Linked DNA regions of Homo sapiens: region 1 is linked to region 2. The links come from fine-mapping of genetic effects on gene expression. A gene starts in region 2. The other region holds a variant in brackets. All regions are shown on one strand. Distances are from middle to middle. Region 1 has its middle 13 kb from the start of FCGR3A. Region 2 holds the start of HSPA6 (heat shock protein family A (Hsp70) member 6).

The links.
Region 1: its variant is fine-mapped to the expression of HSPA6 in whole blood (TOPMed, PIP above 0.99). The same link has a PIP of 0.9 or more in blood mononuclear cells.

The regions. Positions count from the first base shown.
Region 1 is chr1:161,558,255-161,567,135 of GRCh38, reverse strand. No RefSeq gene overlaps it. Among named protein-coding and RNA genes, the nearest start is that of FCGR3A, 13 kb to the right of the region's middle. The variant G/A (reference allele first, on the strand shown) is at 4,533.
Region 2 is chr1:161,521,117-161,529,853 of GRCh38, reverse strand. HSPA6 (heat shock protein family A (Hsp70) member 6) reads right to left here and starts at 5,314. Exons shown (of 1, transcript NM_002155.5): 1 at 2,960-5,314. The coding sequence starts at 5,195. The coding sequence ends at 3,264. It overlaps TRG-GCC2-1 (tRNA-Gly (anticodon GCC) 2-1), which reads left to right and starts at 5,937; the gene lies at 5,937-6,007. It also overlaps a transcript of FCGR2A not described here and the pseudogene TRD-GTC10-1.

The DNA of each region.
Region 1 (8,881 bases), 37 kb before region 2:
ACATCATAAAAAAGGATATCCAAATGACCAAATAAGCACATAAAAAGATAATAAGTCACTACTTATCAGGGAAACGCACATTAAAAACACAATATCACTGTATACCCACCTGGGTGGCTAAAGTTTAAAAGATTAACAAGACCATGATATACCTCAATTAAAAACAAACAAGAAAATCTCAAATTGCCTAATAGGTTAGATCACCACCCTACTCAAAATTCTTCAATGATTTTACATTGCTTTCAGGATGATATTAAACCCTTCAAAGTGACATTCAAACACTTCGGGATGGCACATAGCATCTGAGAGTGTATGTAATATCACAGCTGCCCCACGGCACAGGATGCTATGTGCCATACTGAAGATTCCAGCACCTAGAGTCTTGAGGTATATTGCGGTCTTGTCAGATTCTGCCCAATCCTATTCCTAACTTCCCCAAGCTTGCCATGCTATTGCCATGTTTGAGCCCATGCTGCTTTCTGTGAACAAAGCTATCTTGCCAACTCATACTTATCCTTCAAGATCAAACTCCTTCTCCATAAAGCCTTCCATGAGTTACACATAACTAAACTGTTGTTCACAAGAGGAAGAGTCGTCTACGAGTCGCTGACTCTCCGGGATCTGCCCTACTTTCACAAAGACATGCCCCATTTATGAACACACGAAGCACAGTGTGCCATATTTTGGGTACCTTGACCTGGGGAGAATGTTGTAAATGGATTTGTTTTGTTTCTTCTGGGCTTAGAAATGTAAACTGTTTGCTGTTCTCTACTGCCCTCTGTTGAAACAAAAGTGGACAGTGTACATCTCTTCTGCAGGACAAAGGAATCCAGTTTACAAGGAAATGAAAGAGAGATCTGAGTGGTTTAATGCAACAAACAGCCAACTAATGGTCTAGGGGAGTGAGATTAAGAGTCCAGAGCAGGCCGGGCACAGTGGCTCACGCCTGTAATCCCAGCACTTTGGGAGGCCGAGGCGGGCGGATCACGAGGTCAGGAGATCGAGACCATCCCGGCTAAAACGGTGAAACCCCGTCTCTACTAAAAATACAAAAAATTAGCCGGGCGTAGTGGCGGGCGCCTGTAGTCCCAGCTACTTGGGAGGCTGAGGCAGGAGAATGGCGTGAACCCGGGAGGCGGAGCTTGCAGTGAGCCGAGATCCCGCCACTGCACTCCAGCCTGGGCGACAGAGGGAGACTCCGTCTCAAAAAAAAAAAAAAAAAAAAAAAAGAGTCCAGAGCAAGGAGAACCCGGGGCTGCACTTACCTTAAGCCACTTGGTCTGCTCTTCTGATTGAATGTCTCTTGACCTCAGCATGACTTCAGACAGTGGTACTCAGAAAGAAAGGCTTGATTCATTCATCCGCACTCTGGCTTTAGACCCTTAGTGAGGAGGGTGGCATTTGAAGTTGTAGTAGAAAACTAGGAGTTAGATTCTAACGCCTACGGTCTGCAACGCAAATGCGTTGGAACCTCCCCATCAGGCCTGTTTTGCCCTTTAACTGTATCAAGTGCATGTGTCTCCAGCAAGGGTAAAATTCAGTAGGGTGGGAACTTGGTCCTAAGCAAACATGCTGAAGGATGCTGGAAAATGGTCCTGGGGAAGGTTGAAGCCATCCTCCTTAGTAGCAAGTAAATACTTGACAAGAACATTTGAAGAACTGTGAATGAGGCTCTAACCAATTCAAACTTGCCTCCTTGTCACTGGAAATAGACCTGCTGCAAGGTATCAGCAAATAAGGAGTCATCTCTTTGGCTTCCAGTTAATTTTCTAAAAGCACAATTCAGCTCCAGTCTGTGTCTCTAGCTCTAGCCCAGATTTCTCCTTCCAGTTACCCAGCTGATATTGACCACTCCCCTGCTATGTCCACAGGCACCTCAAACGCAGAATATCCAAACCTGAACTTACCATCTCTCCACAACCCCTTCCAGCTAAGCTTCTTTCCATCATATTCCCCACCTCAGGGAATGGCACCTCCTAAGGCAGGAATCTGGATATCATTGTGATTCCCACATTCTCTTTCATAACCCACATCCAATTGTGCCAGTTCTCCTTGCTAAATATCTCAACCCCACCACCATTACCTTAGCCTGAGGCTATCTTCATCTGCCACCATGACTACCGCAAGAGACCAACTCATCTTTCTGCTCCCAGTCTTACTCCTCCAGCCTATTTACAAGCAGCAACCAGAGTAATTTTGTTAAAGTACAAATTATATTATGTCACTTTCCTGCTTCAAATAATTCAGTGGCTCCCCACACCCTCACGACAAAACCCAAACTCCTTAATGTGTTCTGTAAAGCACTGTGATACCAAAACCCATTTACTCCACTGCAGCTCCATCACACTGTCCTACTCTCCTCATACTCAGAATACAACAAACTCTGCTCTAGGGGAGACTCTTTGATCTCAGTATAGACATTTTCTACGCTAGAGGCCTGTTCTGGCATCCTACGATTGAAAGGTTCAAGAATATTTAGCCATTTCTATCTTTAAGGTGCTTCTGCCTTGATTTTAAGTACTAATCAGAAAGGAAAGATACATGGAAAAAAGTCAGCAATGTAAAATAAATGGTTTAAGCATTTCACATTTTTATGTCACTTATTTTATGTCTCTTTTTGTTGGGTTCTAAGGAGAGTTGTAAAGAGAGTCAAAAAGCAGGGAGCTAAAAGGCATTAGTAAGCCCCTCGAGCCAGGCAAGTTGTTAAGCAGACAGCTCCTCTCAGAATACAAGCAAATCTGTTTCATAAGGATCATAGAGTGAAACACACGAATCAAGCTATGGATACACCAGAGGATAATAGAATTGAATCTTGAGTAAATTCTCTGAAGGAAAAGAGACCAGGCGTGGTGGCTCATGCCTGTAATCCTAGCACTTCGGGAGGCGGAGGCAGGCGGATTACATGAGGTCAGAAGTTCGAGACCAGCTGGCCAACATGGTGAAACCCCGTCCCTACTGAAAATACAAAAATTAGCCGAACGTGCTCACTTGAACCCAGGAAGTGAGGCAAAGGTTGCAGCGAGCGGAGATCATGCCACTGCACTCCAGCCTGGGCAACAGAGTGAGACTCTGTCTCAAAAAAAAAAAAAAAAAAAAAACAAAAAAAGAAAGAAAGAAAAGAAAACACCTTCATAAAACTTTTAAATTTCGGAATGATACAAAACTAAAACCAACCAAAAACAAACTACTAACTGCAAACTGGAAAAAAAATGTGTAAAAATTCATGTCTCCCTGCAAAGGGGTATTTTTATTATATAAGAAATTAATGAGAAGAACATAGAGTTTTGATAAATAGGCAAAGGCAGGGATATCAATAGAGAAACCCAAAAACATTTAGTTAAACAAAAAATAAATATCCAAGAGGGCCAGACATGGTGCTAAGTGCTTTCCATCTAATAGCAATATGAAAGAGGAAATGCAACTGGTTGACAGACACATGGTAAATGTTGATTCCACACTAGTAATCAAATAAATGCAAATAAAAATTATGAGACCCCATTTCTCAGCTATGAAATTGCCCACAATTAAGAAAAAAGAACGTGATTAAATGAACTTGCATATATTTCTGAATAGGGTAGAAATTAAAACAATTGTTTTGGAAAGAGATTTGGAAAAACTATCAAAACCTTGGAAATTCATGTACTTTTGACATTGTAATTTTGCTTCTGGGAAAATGACCTTTGGAAATATCCCAAAATATACAAAAGCACTGTTACTCTTTGCAGAGCTACTGAATGATAATGAAAATTAGAAACAACCTAAAATATCCAAAATCATGCTTCAAGTAAATTGCTCTGCTGCTACATCAGCTGGAGTCTCCCTGAGCACTGAGAGAGAGGGGTATGAATGAATCAGTTAGGTGGCTTTCTGAAGCAAGTACAGAAAATTCTGCTCAAATGGCTTAAATAACAATAAATGTTTTACTATCTCACATATTAAGTTTCTTGAAGTTAGGGCAGCTCCAGAGCTGTTTAATCTACAATAATGTCATCAGTAACCCAGATTCTTCCCTCTCTTTGCTTTGCTACTCTCAGCATGTCAGCCAGTCTTCTCTGGAAGCAAGTTGGCTGCCGTAGTAGCTCCCAGCATCACATCTTTAAGCATCACCATGTCCAAAGACTGAGAAAGAACTCGTTACTTCCTGTGTCCCAGAATCCCTCTAGCAGATTATCCCTGAGGATTAATTGTCCAGAACTGTATCATATGCTTAGTCCTAAGCATGGCAAGACAATAGAACACCATAATTGGCTTAGAGCGGCAGTTCTCAAAGTGTGGTCCTTGTGCCAAGATCAGCATTACCTGGAAACTTGTTAGAAATGCACATTCTCAAGCCCCACCAGAATCAGAAACTCGGAGGGTAGAGTAGAGCTCACCAAGTTGTGTTTTTAACAAGCCCTCCAAATGGCTCTGATGTAGCTCAAATTTGAGAACCACTGGTTTAGACTAACTGAAAGTTCACACACTGAGGCTGGAAAAGGTCTAGGCTTCTCTACAGCTCATGACCACAACATTGCTAAACGAAATCAAGTTCC[G/A]TTAGCAAAGAAGAAGGGAAGAAATGGCTGTGCAGTAGGCAACTGCCCATACAGGATAAAGTTCCTGTTTTGGTGGCCAAAATGACCCAAATCTTTTTAAAAAAAAAGAAAGTCAAAGTAATACCATTTCTTCCTTTCCACACACCCTCAAATACATTTTTTAAGCATTTCTCCTCCCATTTAACGTGAAATGTGAAAGATGTTGAGTGGAGTTTGCAGTTGTTCGAGACCAGCTGGCCAACATGGTGAAACAACATGGTGTTTATGTATATGTGGAATCATTATAAAAAAGGAAGTTGCAGAATAATATGCATTATGTACTATGCTAACAATAACAACAAAAATGAAGAAAATATAAATACATATAGGTGGATGTGTGCTTATATGAATATAAGTGTATGGGGAAAGTTCTGGAAAGATATACTACAAGCTTCTAAGGGGTTACCTCTGAGGAAGGGAGTGAAATTGGGGGAGGGAGTCATTAAATCTCACTGTTACTTTTATTTTATTTACGTCCGAATTGTTTCACTTATTTGCAACAAGAACATATATAGATCACGCGTGTATTTTCAAACCAAAAAGTGCTTAAAGCCACAATAACAAAATATTGGCGAAAGGGACAAGGACTGAGTCTCTAGGGATGGTTCTGAGCTCTGCTCATACTCCCAATGATGTTGCCAACCTTTCTCTCTTCTCCAGTGGGATGGCACGGATAAAAACAGAACAACACAAAACAGTATTTCCACTTCTTTTTCAAAAACTTTTTCAAAAACTAAGTTTTCTTTTTGGTGTTACCTTGTATTGTTCTGGTAGATTCTGAAGATTTTGCACATGAGCAGAAGCATGAATTTAGTTTTTATAATTAACTTTTAACTCTTAGAAGTATAACTTGCTAGCTCTGCTAGAAAATCCTTTTGGCTCCCAAAAGCTGCCTTCATTAGGATTTTTAGAAGACAAAGGCTACTACATTCTGCAATATCTAGAAATTACCACTGGAAGGCAACATTCAGAATTAGAGAATATTTAAGATGGAAAGAGTTAGATATAATCTAGCCCGATTACCTCACTTTGCTATGAGGAAACAAGTTCAGGGAAGAGAAGTGGCTTGACAACTGACCCCTGTCAGACCGAAACCAAAACTGAGATTTCCTTCCTCCTTGGCCAGTATCCTTCCCATAACACATCGCCATCACTCTCTTTTTGAAACTTTAAAAACTTGCAAGTCTGGGAGGCATCTAAGCATGTTCTGATGTGAGATAGCACAAGGCAGGGCATTTAAAACTCACTCTTGGCTATAGCATAAAATTTTAGAAAGTTCTTGTATGTCAACAGGTCATATTATTTTAATAACCACAGCCAAAGAAAACAGGTGCAGCTTAAGGTCATCCCACAAAATCTGCTTCAATCCCATGTGCTTTTTTTCCCTTGTTGTCTGTCTATCTCTTCCTGGTTTTGTGAAAGTGTTCTCTCCTTGTCCCATGACTGCCTTTGTATGATGTATCTCGAGGTGTGTCTGTTTCCAGACCTCTCAGTAGATGCCTTGCTCTTCATGCATTTTCTATCTATTTTTAAGACACCATATTTGAAAACCTGGGTGTCTCTCTCAGTTTTTTGTGGGTTTTTGTTTTGTTTTGTTTTTTACTGTCCCAGTAACTGTGTCTTTCTGAGTTTTCTCTCACTGGTTTTCCTCTAAGTCCCATCCCATTTTGTGTCTTTATGTCTCTAACTCTGCCTGTTCTCCTCCCTTTTCTTTTATATTGACAGTTTCCTTTCCTATTTCTTTTCTTCACTTTACTAGACACATAATGGTGAATATTTTGTTTTGTTTTGTTTTGAGACGGGGTATCGCTCTGTTGCCCAGGCTGGAGTGCAGTTGCACGATCACAGTTCACTGCAACCTCCACTTCCCAGGCTCAAGTGATCCTCCCGCCTCAGCCTCCCAAGTAGCTGGGACCACAGGCATGTAGCCCCAGGCCTGGCTTATTTTGAATTTTTTTAAGAGATGGGGTTTTGCCAGGTTGCCCAGACTGGTGTTGAACTCCTGGCCTCAAGCAATGCTCCTGCCTCAGCCTCCCAATGTGCTGGGATTACAGGTATGAGCCACCATGCTGGGACCATGAATATTTTTTATTAAATAATTTTGATATCTATTGTATTTAAAGCTCAGAGCTTACTATATTTTGTTATTAATATTAAAATAAGCAAGTAGAAGCCAGGCAGTAGTGCTGGCTACTCAGGAGGCTGAGGCAGAAGGACTGCTTGAGTCCAGGAGTTTTTTAATCCAGCCTGGCTGACACAGTGAGACCTCATCTCTAAAAAAGAAAGCAAGCAGAATATTTTCTTAAAAGGCAATTATATTCCTTCTTGGCCAGGCCCAGTGGCTCACACCTGTAATCCCAGCACTTTGGGAGGCCGAGATGGGTGGATCACCTGAGGTCAGGAGTTCGAGACCAGCCTGGCCAACATGGCGAAAACCCGTGTCTACTAAAAATACAAAAATTAGCTGGGCATGGGGGCATATGCCTGTAATCCCAGCTACTTGGGAGGCTGAGACAGGAGAATCGCTTGTACCCGGGAGGCAGAGATTGCAGTGAGCCGAGATCATGCCACTGCACTCCAGCCTTGGCGACAGAGTGAGGCTTTGTCTAAAAAAAAAAAGGTATTTTTTGCCTCTCTGTTGGTACCAATTGTTAAATTCTTTGTGGACCACTGATGCTTACCAAAAAAAAAAAAAAAAAAAGTGGGGGCATCATATTTCCTCTAGTTGACATTAAGACACAGTAATTTAGCCAGAGGAGATCTTAGCAAACATACAGTCCACACTCCACTTTCTCATTTCATGATTGTAGAGACTGAGATCTAGACAATTTAATCGGTGGTCACCCTGGGTGACATAGCTAGGTCTAGAGCTCCTGGTCTCCAGGTCAGCATTTCTTTCTTCTTCATTAAATGTCAAGTTTCCTCCCCTGTTCATTATTAGCTCCTTCCAGAAAGAGAGTTTCTTATCTTTTTAGTAGGTACTCAGTAAATACCAAGGTATTCACTAGGATGCCTTTGGATGAAGGTAACAAGCCCTGACTTAAATTGGCTTAAACAGCAGGGAAATTTACTTGAAATTGTAAGAAATCTGGGTTGGTTGCGTTAGAAGCTCAGTGATGTCACCAAGACCATATTCTATCCCTCCACTCTGTCCTCCTTGGCTATTTGGCATTGACCTCAGACTGGCTGCCTTCAAAATCTTAGGTTTTGCCAGCAGAACCTAGGACAAAATGAGCCCTTGTTCATGTACAGTGGGAGAGAGAGATCATCTCTCCCAAACATGGCACTCCCCTCTACCAGATTGGCCCTATTTAGGACAAAGTTCCGTCTTCTCCCACTTAACCAATAAAAGCCAGGGGAATGCTACACCCTGAGTGGCTTAGATCAGTCAAGATCCACCTCTGCATATGAGGGTGATTCCTGAATAGAATCAAGGTTATATTAGAAGGGAGGGAGAGGGATGGATATCAGGCTAGTACATCATATTCTATTTGTTGAGTTAACTGAGTCATAGCAATTGTTGAGTTGGAAAAAACTCAGAACCTACTGTGGATTCAAGTTCAAGAAATCATTCTTTCCTACATACAACAGCATTGCTCTGTAGCCCTGAGCTAAGAGAGCATCACGAAATACAGTCTTCTTGCTGTTTATAATCGTAAGCAAACTCTTGGACCTGGGAGGGGATGAATGGATAATGTCTGTCTGACTTGCTTCTTTCTAGTTAGTACCAACTACCTCCCTTCTTCCTGTGATTGTTCTTAGAATAGGATAAAAAATCTTCCCTTCCCTAGATCTTACAGTCTCCCCTTCCCCCAGGCCTTTCTATTTTTCAGGATTTTACTCTAATCACACCACCGAAGAATCAAGAAATCTTTAAAGTGTATTAGAGTAGCTAGTTGTGGCAGCACTAAAACACGGCTGCAAATTCTTTGACACTCTCTCCATCAAGAAATGAGGCCTACATCCTCTACCCTTGAATCTGGGTGGGCTTATAACTTCTGGTGATTAGACTACAGCAGAAAGAGAAGCTGTATAGCTTCCTAAATGTTATAAAGTCTTAAGGATAGCTGCCAGCAAGACCTTAGGACAAAATGAGCCCTTGTTCACGTCCAGTGGGAGAGAGAGAGAGAGACCCTCTCTCCCAAATATGGCAATCCTCTCTACCTATAACATTTACATAAATGTTATAGGTTAAACGTTCCACAACAAACTAAGTACTATTTAACATCAAGAGGAAAAAGAGACAGGAGAAAGGGTTAATAAGCCTGTTGATGAGGATCTAAGAAGAACAAAGGAGGCCTGGTTTGGGC
Region 2 (8,737 bases):
TTTTTTTTTTTTTTTTTTTTTAGACAGGGTCTCACTCTGTACCCCAGGCTGAAGCACAGTGGCTCAATCTTGGCTCACTGCAGCCTCCGTCTTCCCGGTCCACGCGGTTCTCGTGCCTCAGCCTCCCAAGTACCCGGGGTTCGCGCCTGTAGTCCCAGCTACTCCGGGAGCCTGAGGCGAATCTCTTGAGCCCAGGGGGCAGAGGTTTTTGTGAGCCGAGATCGGCTGACTCCAGGCTGCACTCCAGCCTGGCGTACAGAGTGAGACCCTGTGTCCAAAAAAAAAAAAAGTAACATGAATAAAATCTACAGTTAGTCATTAATGTTATACCAATGCCAATTTCTTAGGTTTGATAAATATAACATGGTTATGTAAGGTTTTAACATTAGGGGAAGTAGAAAGGATATAGAGTAATGACTTTATGTAGTATCTTTGCAACTTGTCTGTTCATCTAAAATTATTGCAAAATCAAAAATTCTTTTAAAAAACCAACAACTTGAAAGTGGTTGCCTGTGAGGAGTAGGACCTGGGAAGGGGGCAAGAAACTGCTTGTACCAAGAATTGATTTTTTTAATAATGGGCATGTGTTCTGATTTAATTTGTTCAAACTTTTTTCCCCCCCTTTGGAACTGGGTGACATAGTTGTGATTACAATAATCAAACTAAGACTACATACAATATAAGGATTTTTAGATACCTAGTATACAAGAAACAGTCCCCAAAGAAACTAAACCAAAATGATCAACAGACGTTTAAAAGTAAATAAAGTTTGTTTATATTTCTCTATAGAAAAATAGATTGCACTCAAATGGGAGGATCTGAGATGTCACAACTAAACACGATAAAAATCTTTCTTCTTATATTCTGTGTGTGTTGGGTTTTTTAAAAGGATAAAAGGCATACTATCAAAATACTAAGAAACTATAAAAAAGTGAGTACTATCAATCCTCTTGAGAAGTTCAAACAGGTTGAGGGGGGTCAATGTTGAGAATTGAGATGAGATTCAGGAAAGGAAGAATGTAATGCAGGATGTACGTGTTACTCCATCTCTCTCTCTCTTTTTTTTTTTTTTCAGGTTCCTTCCATGTGAAGCCAGGCTGCGTAAGACTTGGGCCAGGGCCAGGAAAAGAGGGCAGTTAAAAATGTGAAATGACAGCCAGGGACAAGTGAGTTGTTAGTGTAACCTTCTCTCCGTCTTTAAAAAATCAACCTAAGAAATATAATGTATAATGTAGCATTGTTCTAGCCAAGCTCTCCCATAATTTCTGAGATAAAAATAAATCTCCCAATGCCCATAGGGCAAATATACTCTGGATTGGATTGACTGGGAACTAACACAAGTTTATCCTTTTGATTATTTTGTTTACACCAACAAAGCAAAGGCAAATATCCTTGCTTTTATATTGTCATTGACTCAACTGGCAGTAAAGTTGTGCCTAAGGATATTTTGCAGATTCCGTCACTTGCTATAAAAAACACACAACTAGCTAGGCGTGGTGGCTCACACCTGTAATCCCAGCACTTTGGGAGGCTGAGGTGGGCAGATCACCTGAGGTCACGAGTCTGAGACCAGCTTGACCAACATGGTGAAACCCCATCTCTACTAAAAATACAAAACTTAGCTGGGTGTGATGGCAGGCAACTGTAATCCCAGCTACTGGGGAGGCTGAGGCAGGAGAATCGGTTGAACCCGGGAGGCAGAGGTTGCAGTGAGTTGAGATCGCACCTTTGCACTCCAGCTTAGGCGACAGAGCAAGACTCTGTCTCTGCAAGTATACAATAAAATGCACACTTTTTCTCACGGGGCTCAGCATCCAGCTGTGTTTCAAAGGAATAATATGACCAATTTCAAAACATCTAGGGGAAGGTCTGGTAATAAGTGGAGTTATGGCCTATTTGTAAGGTGGCATGCTGAGGCTCTAGACTCAGGCAGGACAGGGTTCTTCATTCCAGCCTTCCTGTCCCCACTTTATAGCTTTGTGTCTTTGAATAAATTGTTTAACCTCTTTGAACCTCATAATGCTCATCTTCAAAAAGAAGATAGTATTCCATAATGCTGCTGTGAAGATTAAGTTAGATTGTGTATGTCAAGTACCTGATACATAGTTATCACCCAACTAACAATTAATAGTAATTGCTAATGTTTGTTGATAGTATATTATACACCTTTCTTCTTTGCCTCTTACATATATTAATTAATTGAACCCTCACAACAGTCTGGAGGTTGGTACTGTTATCATCATCATCATCCCCACTGCAGGGAAGGGGAAACTGAAGCTTGGAGAGTTTAATTTGCACAGTATATAAAGTGGCAGGGCTGAAAATCTATAGAGTCTTGTTCCAACATCCTCATTATGCCATGGGCAGAAACCACATGGGATCATACTATTTCTCTGACATAGATAAAGTCAATAGTAACTTTAATCGTACCACCAGATCTACTTCCTCTGACATATACCATCCTCCAGAGTCCAGGACTCAGAGTCTTTTCTCTAAAAGAACAATGGATAAAGTGACATGATTACAAACAGCTAATAAGCATGTAAACTATTTGTTAGTGTTATTAAAACAGCTAGACTGACAAACTCAACCAGGTTCCTATGACAAAAATACAGAATTTGAATCATAGGATCACACATGGAAACACTGCCAGTACTTAAGTTTCTCTTCATTCTCTGCTTTTCCAATTCCACATCTCTCCCTCTCTCTTCCTGCATTGTAAGTCTCAATCCTCTCCTCTTTACCAGCCCTAACTCTTCAGTACTGTTCCAATGTATTGGCCTCAAATTCTTTTCCAAATCCTGCCTTCCCCTATAGGAATCATGTACACGGTCTCAGGAATATTCTTCACATTCCTCCTTCAGCACCCACCCCAACATTTTCTGCTTCTGAAAGCCTTTGGGTACTTTTGTACTTCGATTGGTTGGAATGAAAAACAAGAAGGAGTTTTAAAAGCTTATTTAGGTCTATAACTATATTTTACATAACAAAATTCATACATGCAAGTAACAAAGTACACAAAATATAGGTGAAAGCAATGTTAAAGTGCCACACAAGTTTTAATAAATTAATGACTTTTTATTTGAAGCAGAAGAGGATGAACCGCCCTCCCCGCAAAAAGTCAAAAGACTTCAGTTATCCTGGGAAGAAAGTTCTAGCTTTGGAGGGAAAGTTCATCTCTGAAGGGCAGGATCATAGAAGACAGTCTAGAAGGCCCATAGCATAGCCCTGACAGTCACAGCTGACTTATCACGAAGGGCCATTCAATCAACCTCCTCAATGATGGGGCCGGTGCTGGGGTCCCCCTGGCGGGCTTGAGTGCCACAACTGCTGCCCCCAGGGACACCAGGCCCCCCATAGAGCCTGGAGAAGATGGGGCGACAGATTTGCTCCAGCTCCCTCTTCTGATGCTCATACTCCTCCTTCTCTGCCAGCTGGTTGTGCTCCAGCCAGGCAAGGACTTCCCGACACTTGTCTTGCATTTTGCGCCTGTCCTCTTCGGGAATCTTGTCCCTAAGGCTTTCCTCTTGCAAAGAACCTTTCACATGGAAGACATGGGCCTCCAGCGAGTTTTTGGCAGCCACTCTGTCCCTCTGGGCCTCATCCTCAGCCTTGTACTGCTCGGCTTCATGAACCATCCTCTCCACCTCCTCCTTGCTCAGCCGGCCCTTGTCATTGGTGATGGTGATCTTGTTAGCCTTACCTGTGCTCCTGTCAGTGGCTGTCACGCTCAGGATGCCATTAGCATCAATGTCAAAAGTCACCTCTATCTGGGGGACTCCACGTGGGGCAGGAGGGATGCCACTGAGTTCAAAACGCCCCAGCAGGTTGTTGTCCTTGGTCATGGCCCTCTCACCCTCATACACCTGGATGAAGACCCCAGGCTGGTTGTCCGAGTAGGTGGTGAAAGTCTGGGTCTGCTTGGTGGGGATAGTGGCGTTCCTCTGGATCAGCGTGGTCATCACCCCACCTGCTGTCTCCAGCCCCAGAGACAGGGGAGCCACATCCAGCAGCAGGAGATCCTGCACTTTCTCACATTTGTCCCCCATCAACACGGCCGCCTGCACAGCAGCCCCATAGGCCACAGCCTCATCAGGGTTGATGCTCTTGTTCAGCTCCTTGCCGTTGAAGAAGTCCTGCAGCAACTTCTGCACCTTGGGGATGCGTGTGGAGCCCCCCACCAGGACGACGTCATGAATCTGGGCCTTGTCCAGCTTGGCATCCCGCAGGGCCTTCTCCACCGGCTCCAGGGTGCTGCGGAAGAGGTCTGAGCACAGTTCCTCAAAGCGGGCACGAGTGATGGACGTGTAGAAGTCCACGCCCTCGAACAGGGAGTCTATCTCCAGGGTGGCCTGGGTGCTGGAGGACAGGGTGCGCTTGGCGCGCTCACAGGCTGTGCGCAGCCTGCGCAGGGCACGCTTGTTCCCGCTCAGGTCCTTCCCATGCTTCCGCCGGAATTCTTCCATGAAGTGGTTCACGAGCCGGTTGTCGAAGTCCTCTCCTCCCAGGTGGGTATCTCCAGCAGTGGCTTTCACCTCAAAGACACCAGCGTCAATGGAGAGAACCGACACATCGAAGGTGCCCCCACCCAGGTCAAAAATGAGCACGTTGCGCTCTCCCGCGCCCCGCCGGTCCAGCCCATAGGCGATGGCAGCTGCCGTGGGCTCATTGATGATCCGCAACACGTTGAGCCCCGCGATGGCCCCCGCGTCCTTGGTGGCCTGGCGCTGCGAGTCATTGAAATAGGCGGGCACGGTGATCACTGCGTGCTTCACGGGCTGGCCCAGGTACGCCTCGGCCGTCTCCTTCATCTTGCTCAGCACCATGGACGAGATCTCCTCGGGGTAGAACGTCTTGTCCTCCCCGCGGTAGCATACGCGCACCTTGGGCTTGCCGCCCTCGCTCACCACCCGGAAGGGCCAGTGCTTCATGTCCGACTGCACCGTGGTGTCCGCGAACTTGCGCCCGATCAGCCGCTTGGCATCGAACACGGTGTTGTGGGGGTTCAGGGCCGCCTGGCTCTTGGCCGCGTCCCCGACCAGCCGCTCGGTGTCGGTGAAGGCCACGTAGCTGGGCGTGGTGCGGTTGCCCTGGTCGTTGGCCAGGATCTCCACGCGGCCCTGCTGAAACACGCCCACGCACGAGTAGGTGGTGCCCAGGTCGATGCCCACCGCGAGCTCCCGTGGGGCCTGCATGGCTGAAGCTTCTTGTCGGATGCTGGAGGCCACGGAGGCTGCTGCCGCTCCGCCGTCGAGGGGCGCTCAGCAGTGAGGCTCTCCCTGCGGTTTCTCTGCAGCCAGCCCGGCTCGGATCTGCTCAGCTCCGCTTCCACCGGCTTTTTATCCTTTTGCGCCTCACCCGACCCCCGCCGCCGCGAACTTTCGCGAACCTTTCCGCACCTTCCCGCACCTTCCCGCCCAGTTGAGAGCCTCTCGCCCGCCCGGGCTGACTCAGCCGGGTGGCGCGGCGCGGCGCTGACCCCGGGAGAAGGTTCGGGCAGATCGGGGCATGAGCCGCGAGGCTGGGCGGCTACGCCAGGCCAGCCCGCCTCTGACTCAGGCTGCTGAAAGAAATGCGGGGAAGGTTCTAGCTCCTCCGGGCTGGCTCTGAGGACGCGCGGTTGTGGCAGAGGCTGCAAAAGCAGCAACTTTAGAGGCAAGGTCTCCCCGGGGCTGTGGGAGGTCGGATCCCTGAGGCACACAGGGGCCTGCGGGCTGCCTTGGAGGGCCGCTGAGAGCCCAGCGGCTCAGGAAGGCCGAAGATATGTTACCATGCGAATACAGATATATAAGATATATACACGTATATCTTAAAACAGTTTTATCTTGAACAAAATATTTTCCAAACCGCGATTTAAGACGGTGCCTGGTTCCTTAGTGAATGGCCAGAGATAGTGAGCTTTAAGAGACAATACTGCAGGTCTTTAGCTGACAGTAGCATTGGTGGTTCAGTGGTAGAATTCTCGCCTGCCACGCGGGAGGCCCGGGTTCGATTCCCGGCCAATGCACTTTCATTTTTTTCCGATCCATTTCAATTCTTTTTCTCATCTAGGATTAATCACTCTTGAATAAATTAAACCAGGTGGCTGAAGACTTTACATTCCTCCAGTTTTGTTCTCTCTCCTTTACCAGTCACTTTCCACAAAGGAGATGTGACATTGCACTGTGGCCCTGGGACTCGGGAGAGACCTCGCCACTCAGCCCAAGAGAGAACGCAACACCTGGGAAAGGAGGACGCAGAGTACGGTCGGGATGTCCCTCATGTTCTCCCCACTGTTTGTATCCCCGAGGAGCCTCGTCTCCAGAGGCCCGGTGGAGAGGCACAGTGTGCGTTTTTCTTTATGGCCTAAGTGGGTTCCCAGCTGGAGACCAGGACTCAGGTGGAGAGTAAACTACTGCAGGCTCCAGTCCAACCTACCTCCTAAAGGCTGGAGGACGAGATGGGTTCACTGGGCAGTAAAGTCACACTGGTTTTTATCAGGTTGTGACTTTGTGAATTGAGGCCATTTCCCACTTTCTTCAATCCAGAACATTCCATTCAGATCTGCTGGCGTTCGGATTTCCGCTGAAAGCCAAAACAAGGAGACATTTCTGAGACTTCTGAAGGTTGACAAAATCCTCACACAATTTCCCGTGACCTCCCCGTCGGGGAATCGACCCCCTCTCTCACGCATGACAGGCAGAGATACTCACCACTATAGTAACAAGGATGGCAACTGCAATAGCTGGCAGCTGGAGAGTATGTGGTACAGTCTGGTGTTACAATTTAGCAGTGTGTTAGAGAAACTTAAAAGTTGGCTTCTATTTAACGTTACTTGCCTGATTCAGAGGAAACTTCCATTTGTAAAAAGAGAAACTAAAAACCCTTACTCCATAGATGGCTATTTTCTCCTTTGACAGGTTAGAACCCACTAGGAAGTTCAAGGGACTTTTTAAGAGGGAGGCAGGAGTCCAGAAGTAGAGGTCAGTACTGTTCCCGGGCTGGGTTCCTTGGTTAATCGTCTCTCCGAGAGCACCAGTGACAGCTGGTAGAGTTTGCTGCTTGAGAGGATCAGCCGTACTGGTAAGGTGATCAGTTCAGGAAAAAAGGGAATGTTTAAAGAAATGTGCAATATATGACTTACACAGTGGAAAATCAAACTGTCCTTGAAAAGAAGTAACCTATTTCATAATTCCAAAAGGGAAAGAAGCTGTCAACTTTAAATTCACTCACTCTCAGGGTCTAAGCTGGTCACACCTGGATGCCAGAGTCAAGACATTTGCCAACGGCCTGCAAGAGACGGGTCTTCACCTCAGCAGGGAAAAGTTGGCCCAGCCTGGGGTTCTGTGCCCCGGCGTGTTAAGGGGCTGTCTTGTGTGGGCTCCTCCAACCTTCTCTTCCAGCCCCCAGCCACCTCAAAACCCCACTTACCCACTCATCTCCAAGAGTTACAGGCATAGCCCTAACGCAGCCTATGAATGTTACCACAGCATCACAGAGGCATGCTTCCAATATCACTCACTTCTTTTTAATTGATCTCTTCAGAGTGGTTCAAACATAGCATAGGGGAGCTTATGCATGCAGTACAGTTTTGGTTTTGTTTGTTTGTTTTTTCTAAAAGAGCCACTGTAGGGTTGTTGGGGGTTTTTTTGTTTGTTTCTTTTTATTTTATTTTTTTCTGGTTCCTGCTCTGTCCCTCAGGCTGGAGTACAGTGATGCAATCACAGCTCACTGCAGCCTTGAACTCGTGGCCTCAATCAGTCCCACCTCTACCTTCCACAGCTTTGGGATTACAGGCATGAGCCACTGCAGCTGGCCTAGTATAAATTTTATACATACACTTAAATATATCCACTTATGTTTAGTAGCTTAGTTTGAGTAGCTTTAAAAATAGAACCGACCTTAAAGTAATGACTTAAATAGACATTCTAATGTGGTGCAAAGCTCACGACTCAATATTGAGTACAAAAAAAAAGCAAGTTGTATGTGTTAGCCCATTCTCACACTGCTAATAAAGACATACCTGAGACGGGGCAATTTACAAAAGAAAGAGGTTTAATGGACTTACAGTTCCACGTGGCTGGGAGGCCTCACAATCATGGCAAAAGGTGAAAGTCATGTCTCACATGGTGGCAAACAAGAGAAGAGAGAGCTTGTGCAGGGAAACTCCCCTTTTTAAAACCATCAGATCTCATGAGACTTATTCACTATCACAAGAACAGCATGGGAAAGACCTGCCCCATGATTCAGTTACCTTCCACTGGGTCCCTCCCATGTGTTGTGGGAATTCAAGATGATATTCGGGTGGGGACACAGCCAAACCATTTCACTATAGAACAAAATTTGTAGTATAATCCAAACTATATATATATAAAAGTCAGTGACATCCACTACCTGTTTGTCCTTGAACAAGTCATTTCACCTGTCTGGGCCACAGCTTCCTCCGTTTTAAAATGAAGAGATTGGACTACATTGTTTCTAAGGACTTTCCAGTTTAAAGTCTCTGATTTCAAACGTCAAAGAATTTACTCATTCCGCACATATTTATTAAGCGCTTTACTATGCACTAGACACTGACCTGGGCTCTGAGTATGTGGTAGTGAACAAAACAGACAAAGACCTCTCCTGGAGCTCACATTCTAATGAGAGGAGTGGGGAAGTCAGACACAAAACAAACAGTAAACATATATTAATAGTACATCAGTAGTAATAAGCACAATGGAGAAAAATGAAGAAGGAAAGGGACATTAAGAGTATG